Homo sapiens: one gene and its partner. The main gene of each other region encodes a partner of the protein of the gene in region 2 in a complex. Each region holds a gene or a part of one and is shown on either strand. Other genes may lie near its edges.

Region 1 (3,914 bases), on a different chromosome or scaffold from region 2:
GTTTCTACCAAAAATTATTAAAAATCAGCTGGGCATGGTGGCATGTGCCTGTGGTACCAGATACTCAGGAGGCTGAGATGGAAGGATTACTTGAGCCCAGGAGGCGGAGGCTGCAGTAATCCGAGATTGCGCCACTGCACTCCAGCCTGGGTGACAGAGCAAGGCCCTGTCCCCAAAAAAAACCAAAAACACACATACACACAAAGAAATCAAGCTAAGATTCTGAACCTTGATAAAAGCCACAGGCAGAAACTACTATCTAAATCAAGACAGAAGAAAATCTTCTGGAGTCAAGGCACACAGAAATTCACAAGACTTCAACGCTCAAAGCCAAACACTGATTGCCTGATGGCCTCACAGCCCTGCTCTAAGGAGCCCAAACTAGCAATCACAGGGTTACATGAGGAAGGAACCTCGAGTCTCTAGAAGATTAAAATAAGAAGATGCAGTAAAAAGGAGGCTTATAGCCATGGGACATCTCACCGATTCTCGGAAGCCATCATACTTGTAGACATGGCCATTCTTTGTAAGCAGTTTAAGTCCATGGCCCAGAGCAACACGGCGCCAGATACCTTCTGTTAACTCCCCAGCCTGGATGTTGTCCACTTTGCCTGTCTTGCTATTCTTGAAGATGATGCCCTGACGGCTCAACCTCAGTCGACCATCATTCTGTAAGAAAAGCAGGCCCAGATGCATGGAGACAGTACACAGCATGTCCTGGGTTCTACAGCTCTACCTAACACACATTCCTGCTGCAAGTGGACTGGCCAGATTATCAATGCAGGAGCAACAGCTGAGGGTGCCAAGGAGTCTAGATTCTAAACCAGACTCTGGTATCTAGAACCCTTAACAGATTCTCAGTTTCCTCATTTGTAAAACAGGAATTGGGAACTGAACAGCATATACGGTCCCTATAACTCTGAGACTATCTCTCAGTATTGCCTTGAGTTGGTGGAGACACTAGGTACACATTATACTGAGTCTTCTTTTTCCAAAATAACGTTACCAAAGCAAGCTCTCATTAATGGACAAAAACTCTACCCTCCTTCCTTCTCTCTACTTGTATCACCTGTCCAAGCCATTCTCACCATGGAACCTTTCACCTCCTGATAGACGTCGTTGAACTCCAGTGTCTCTGCCATGTCGACCCCTGCCTGTGGTGGCCTGGGCAGAGCCCCAGGCTGCACAAGGGAAACCAAGTAAACTGGGAGCTGGGCCCCAACTCCTGAGTGGGTGTGCGGATGCTCAGCAGGTTGGGAATCTGAATTCAAGAGGAAGACAGATAAGCATGAAAGACAGCACCTCGCTGTGCTCACGGATGGAGCCAGGTAGCAACTCCCAGCTGCGCCTGGATGTCTCAGGATTTCCTCTGCCTGGAAACCTACAGACGGACGCTGCAGTGCCCGAGGGTCCAGGTCCAGGCCTGGGTGGAGAACCGGGCCCGGAATACCGCTGACACCCAACCCGACGCCCGCTCTGGCCGCTCCGGCGGGAGCCATGGCAACGAGCAGCGGAACCCCAGGGTCTGCCAGGAGCCCGCACATCGCACGCGACCCAATCCAGCTCAGAGTGCAGGGTTTCCCTCGCACCGCTCCCACCACCCCGCGGCCCCAGACCCACGGTTCACCCCCGCCCCACATAATGGATTCGCCCGCTCCCCGCGGTTGCGAACGCGGAATGGTCCATGTCGAGGGTCCCGTGGGGGAGCGGGGCCCCTGCCTTCCTGGGACCGGGGACGACCACCACCTACCTCCTCAGGCTGCGGCCTCGCGAGGGCCCCGGCGCGAGAGGTGGGCGCGCTGGGGGGACGCGGGGGGGGCGCGGGGAGGGGGATGGGGGGACACCGGGGAAGCTTTTCCCGCGTGCGCGGCCCCGCGTCCCGCCACCGGAAGCCGTACACAGGCCACAGAGAGGATGAGCTGGCTAGAGAGACGCGAGTCGGGCCCGCCTGCGAGACAGTCGCATAGAGCGTCAGCGACTCTGGAGGACCTGAGGGAAGGGTGGTTGCCGTGAAGCCTCTCTCACCCAGGGGGAATCCGGCCTAGAAAATGTGTGTAGGGCTCTTTAGAAACTACAGACACTTCTTCAGTCGAGACTAGATACTAAAGAGAAATTGTGTAGTTTTATTGTATCAGACTTAGTACAGGGGTGGGGTGGGGGTGTGTATTGGAATGATGCGTGCCCGTTTCTCTGCAAAATAGTTTCTATGTCATGGAAAGGAGTCGATGGGACAAGAAGAGAAGTATTTGAACAGTTGTGGGAGGAAACGACCTCTCCCACTGGCTGCGGAGAGTATGCGGGTGTTGGTGTCATCGTGGGTGCACTGCTTTCTGGCTGAACTGTCAAGTTCACTGTCTACACCCAAAATTTTCACATCCTTAACCGAAAATTATAGGTACCTCCAAGAGGCTGGCAAACGGCCTTATCCAGTTCAAGTCCTGGTGTCAGATTCACCTTGGAGCCAGAACTGATTTGAAACCACATCATCCTGTGGTTGCGGAAGCCAGGTCTCCCCCGTATAATCCCAGAGTGCATTTTGCAACATCAGAGACCAGACCTGGAAAAGATGTTTTAGTTTTTCTACCCCAACCTCCTTTTACTGATGGGAAAACTGAGACCCAAAGGGGAGTGAGTTGCCCAGGGTCTCAGTGCGTTGGCAACAAGGCTAGGTAGGACCCAGACCTCCTTAACACCACCAGTCCAGTTATCTTCTGTCATAATCACAGTGACTGTATGTTCAGAATGACTATTGATATGTGTCCTACATGAAGACATTAGTACAGAATATGTAAGCTCAAGATTTCCCTGACAATCAATACACCAGCTTGCTAAATCAATCCTGGGGTAAGAGACAACAGGAATGCACCCTTCTCCCCTGAACTCATAGCTTTAACCTCTGAGTAGTGGCTATTCCAGCATTATCTAGCAAAATAAATTCAACTGGGTTTAATAAATAGATATTGAGGGCCTATTACTACTTTAGCACACTTCTCAGATTTGAGGAAACTTGAACAAGGTGAAAACATCCCCGGCCAGGCACGGTGGCTCACACCTGTAATCCTAGCACTTGGGGAGGCCAAGGCAGGGAGATCACTTGAGGTCAGGAGTTTGAGACCAGACTGGCCAACGTGGTGAAGCCCCGTCTCTATTAAAAATACAAAAATTAGCCAGGCGTGGTGGCGGGTGCCTATAATCCCAGCTACTCAGGAGGCTGAGGCATGAGAATTGCTTGAACCCAGGAGGCAGAGGTTGCAGTGAGCTGAGATTGTGCCACTGCACTCCAGCCCGGGTGACAGAGCGAGACTCTGTCAAAAAAAAAAAAAAAAAGAAAGAAAGAAAAAGAAAAAAAAAAGGAAGGGAAGGAAAGAAAGAAAAAAAAAAAAAACAGAAAAAAAAACCCAGCCCCAACCTTTCAGGAAAACATAATCTAACAAATGACTTTAATAAATAAAGTGACAGTTAAAAAAAAAAGAAGTTGGCACATATACACCGTGGAATACTATGCAGCTGTAAAACAGGATGAGTTCATGTCCTTTGCAGGGACATGGATGAAGCTGGACTCCATCATTCTGAGCAAATTATCACAAGGACAGAAAACCAAACACCGCATATTCTCACTCATAGGTGGGAATTGAACAATGAGAACACTTGGACACAGGGTGGGGAACATCACACACACCAGGGCCTGTCGCGGGGTGGGCGGAGTGGGGAGGGATAGCATTAGGAGATATACCTAATGTAAATGACGGGTATATTTACAGTTAACGGGTGCAACACACCAACATGGCACACGTATACATATGTAACAAACCTGCACGTTGTGCAGGTTTACCATAGAACTTAGAGTATAAGAATAATAATAAAAAGAAAACAAAACAAAAAAGACGTGCTAACTGCTATGCTACAGGTAGAGC
Region 2 (3,914 bases):
GAGTACAGGAAGGAAGAGTTTCCCAGAGAGAAAGCTCCAGAGATCTGCAGAGGGGTCCCCTCAAGTCTTTGGTGGAGGGATGATCTACACATTCATGAGAAAACTGGAACTGCATAAAGAAGCACTGGAAAGCAGTAGGACAGACAACTCCCAATCTCACACAGAACTAGAAATAAATCGTGTTCCAGTGGATTTATTTCCACCACCTTTCCACCAGCTTCAGCAGAGAGATCTCACAATCCACAGGGCATCAGGCAGACTCTGAAGAGTATTGCCTCGTAGTAAGGCCAATTACTTGGAAGTTTTTGAGTGAAACTTTTAAAGGCTGTTCTAAATCCACACTAATAGACATTTGAGAACAAGCCTTGAAAGATCAAACAGAATCCAACTAACTTGACTGCATCCTAGAATAACCTCATCTCTAGTAAAAAAAAATTAGCTGGGTGTGGTAGCACATGCCTGTAGTCCCAGCTACTTGGGATGCTGATGCAGGAAGGTTGCCTGAATCCAAGAGTTTGAGGCTGCAGTGAGCTGTGACTGCACCACTACACTTGAGCCTGGGCAACACAGTGAGACCCTGTCTCAAACAACCACCACCACCACCACTACAAAATATGTAGAAAATATAAAGATAATGGGTGAAGAGCAGAAAAGGATGCTTCAAAAGCTATTGTAAATATGCTCTACATTGACTGGGTGCAGTGGCTTGTGCCTGTAATCCTGGTACGTTGGGAGACCGACGTGGGAGGATCGCTTGAGCCCAGGAGTTTGAGACCAGCCTGGGCAACACTGAAAACAAAAAAGATCTTAGATTTTGATTTTCTTTGTGTTAAGTATGCACAAGCTATTGTTGGGAATTCAAGAAAAAGTGAACAGCTCCGTTATCTAATAGATCTCAAGTTTTCAAGTCCTGGTCTGTAACAACCAAAAGGCAGTCTCACTTTAAGTATATCAGTAGATTTTATGCACAACATACCACATTCAAATTCTATAAAACAGGGCTCATGGGCTAAATGGGAGACTGATGGCAGATTTACTTACTTCAACCATTCCTTGATGGGGTCAAGAGAGGCTACAGGAATGGCGTTGATCATGGTCACTTTCTTGCTGTAGTCCTTGTAGACGATTACCATATCAAAGTTCTTCAGGTGAAACTGGACCCGCTCAAAGTGGATCAGCTCTACCTCATCCAATGTCACCACAAAAGGTGGCTGTCAGGGAGAAACTGAATCATTAGCATATAAGTATTTCCCCCAAAGCAATAATATTTCAAATAACTTTCATGATCTAAATCACTACATAAAAGATAACTTAAGCTGTTTTTTGGTTTTTTTTTTGAAAGACTGAGGCAGTACAACATACTAAGAAGCCACAGAAAAAGGATCTGCAAGATACAAAAATCATCCCTCAAGGAGAATAAACTCAAGGAAACTATGTGAAGGAACCATTTAAAATAAACTATTTAAAAAGACATTATCTTAAAAAATAAAAAATAAAAAAAAGAGAGATAGGTTCTTGCTATGTTGCCCAGACTGGTCTTGAGTTCCTGGCCTCAAGTGTTCCTCCCACCTTGGCCTCTAATTGTGCTGGGATTACAGGTGTGAGCCATTATGCCTGCCCTAAAGAGACTTTAAAAGTAACATTTGTTCAATGAGTTTTAAGTCTAAGTAAATATCAAAAATGAAAATGACAATAATTAGGATAAAAAACACCTATCCTTCTTTATTTTCTCTAACAATTTTCTTACTAAAAGAAAGTAAGAAACACTCACCCATTCCGTAGCATTTACCAGCGCACTACTAGTGGGCTGAAGGAGGCAGGTACTCCTATAGGGAGCTCCGTTAAATCTGGAAGAGACAAACTTTTAAGACTGAGCTCATCACGAGAGAGACTGCTCCTACCACAACAGACAAACTTCTTCCCTCTCCCCATTCCAAACAGCTCCAGCATACTCACTGGAGACTCATCCAGAGGAAGCCTCTTAAGAGTTAGCCACTCACCTAAACCCTTAAACATTTTCAAGAAAAAATGGATGTCTCAAAGATTATTAGTCATAGGAAAAAAGGATATGATATGTTAAATTATTATTAAAGGAAGAATAATTTATTGTACCAAAAGACAGACCAGTCAAACTTCAAGCCAAAAATAAGATAGGTTACCCCAAGTCCCTAAAAGGCACTTCAAATTCCAGTTCCTCCTTAGTTAGAGCCTCTACTTTCTCAATGAAATTTTTAAAGGCTGTTTTCAGTTTGTGCCTCATTTCTCGTTCCATCTGTAGAAGAAAAAAATATCAAATACAGCCATCACATTTGTTAACAGTACCTCCCCTCAAAAAGTCTGAAGTGCTTTTGTGCTTTAAAATAAAAATTCCAACTTTTAAGTTCAGGAGTGCATGGGCAGGATTTGCAGGTTTGTTACACAGGTAAACGTGTGCCATGGTGGTTTGCTGCACAGATCATCCCTGAAGTGCTTTCGTTGCCCTTCATTCTCTCGTAACTATAAAACTAACATGTACATACACCTTTAATATTTAAGGTCACCATGCCATTACCTGTCAAGCTGAGTCTGCAACCTAAGCCTAAACTCTTGTAATACCCTATCTCAGCAGATACTTGAGTTGCTCTGCACAAACAGATTCAGGGTTGTTTATTTATTTATTTATTTATTTTTGGAGATGGAGTCTTGCTAGTCGCCCAGGCTGGAGTGCGGTGGCGCGATCTTGGCCCACAACCTCTGCCTCCCAGGTTCATGCCATTCTCCCGCCTCAGCCTCCCGAGTAGCTGGGACTACAGGAGCCCGCCACTACACCCGGCTAATTTTTTTGTATTTTTAGTAGAGACAGCGTTTCACTGTGTTAGCCAGGATGGTCTTGATCTCCTGACCTCGTGATCTGCCTGTGTTGGCCTCCCAAAGTGCTGGGATTATAGGCGTGAGCCACTGCACCTGGCTATTTATTTATTGAGATGGAGTCTCACTCTGTCGCCCAGGCTGGAGTGCAGTGGCGCTATCTCAGCTCACTGCAACCTCTGCCTCTTGGGTTCAAGTGATTATCCTGCCTTAGCCTCCCGACTAGCTGGGACTACCACCACCCACCACGCCCAGCTAATTTATGTATTTTTAGTACAGACAGGGTTTCACCACATTGGCCAGGCTGGTCTCGAACTCCTGACCCTCAGGTGATCTGCCCATGTTGGCCTCCCAAAGTGCTGGGATTACAGGCGCGAGTCACCACGCCAGCCCAGTTTGTTTATAAAATACAATCCCTGAGCTTGGATTTGGCCTCATCCTCCCTCACTATCCTGCAAATACAATACTAAATTTCACAAACCTGCTCAGCATAGAGGTCATCTCGGTCATGCATATGCTGATGTTTCCCCAAGTCCGTGGTTATCTCTCCCACTTCTGTGTAGAACTGCACATCCGTGTGCCGCTTCTTCCCAAACATGATGGCATTCTGTCGGCATAAAACAGAAAGAACACAGAAGTCAGAAACACAAAGGTATCTGTGATGGAAATGGCAGTGATCCAAACTTGGGCCTCCACAGCATGCATGCAAAAATAATTAAACCACCCCTGGTGTCATCATAAATAATGATGCTTGGGAATGGAAACAGTGTACATTTGAAAAAGTGCTGTGCTCCTACTTATTACAGGAACTTTGGAAATCATGTTGGTAACAAATCTTATCTAAAGCAAAACTTCATTTTAGAAAGAGAAATCTGGAGATCTCGTATAAAACATTTGCTGGCCACCATATAACACACCAAAGGAACAAACATGCTTATGAGCCCCTTCTAGATGCCAGGCCTTGTGGCCTTTAGAGGCATTATTTTATTTAATCCTCTTAAATGTTCTTAAGTGAGAGGTGATTTTTTCATCACTTTTTTGTTTTTTGTTTTTCACACGCTGTCGCC

What was found.
Region 1: SUPT16H (region 2) and SSRP1 share a complex: the UniProt entries of both Homo sapiens proteins name them as parts of the FACT complex.

Annotation. Positions count from the first base shown.
Region 1 is NC_000011.10:57,333,980-57,337,893, forward strand, and holds the start of SSRP1 (FACT complex subunit SSRP1), read right to left. Parts: upstream 1,914-3,914; 5' UTR 1,751-1,913; exon of another isoform or gene 1,641-1,750; coding exon of another isoform or gene 1,143-1,640; coding exon 1,089-1,142; intron 670-1,088; coding exon 484-669; intron 1-483. UniProt on the Homo sapiens protein: Component of the FACT complex, a general chromatin factor that acts to reorganize nucleosomes. The FACT complex is involved in multiple processes that require DNA as a template such as mRNA elongation, DNA replication and DNA repair.
Region 2 is NC_000014.9:21,356,156-21,360,069, forward strand, and holds part of SUPT16H (FACT complex subunit SPT16), read right to left. Parts: intron 3,455-3,914; coding exon 3,329-3,454; intron 2,273-3,328; coding exon 2,160-2,272; intron 1,848-2,159; coding exon 1,772-1,847; intron 1,212-1,771; coding exon 1,042-1,211; intron 1-1,041. UniProt on the Homo sapiens protein: Component of the FACT complex, a general chromatin factor that acts to reorganize nucleosomes. The FACT complex is involved in multiple processes that require DNA as a template such as mRNA elongation, DNA replication and DNA repair.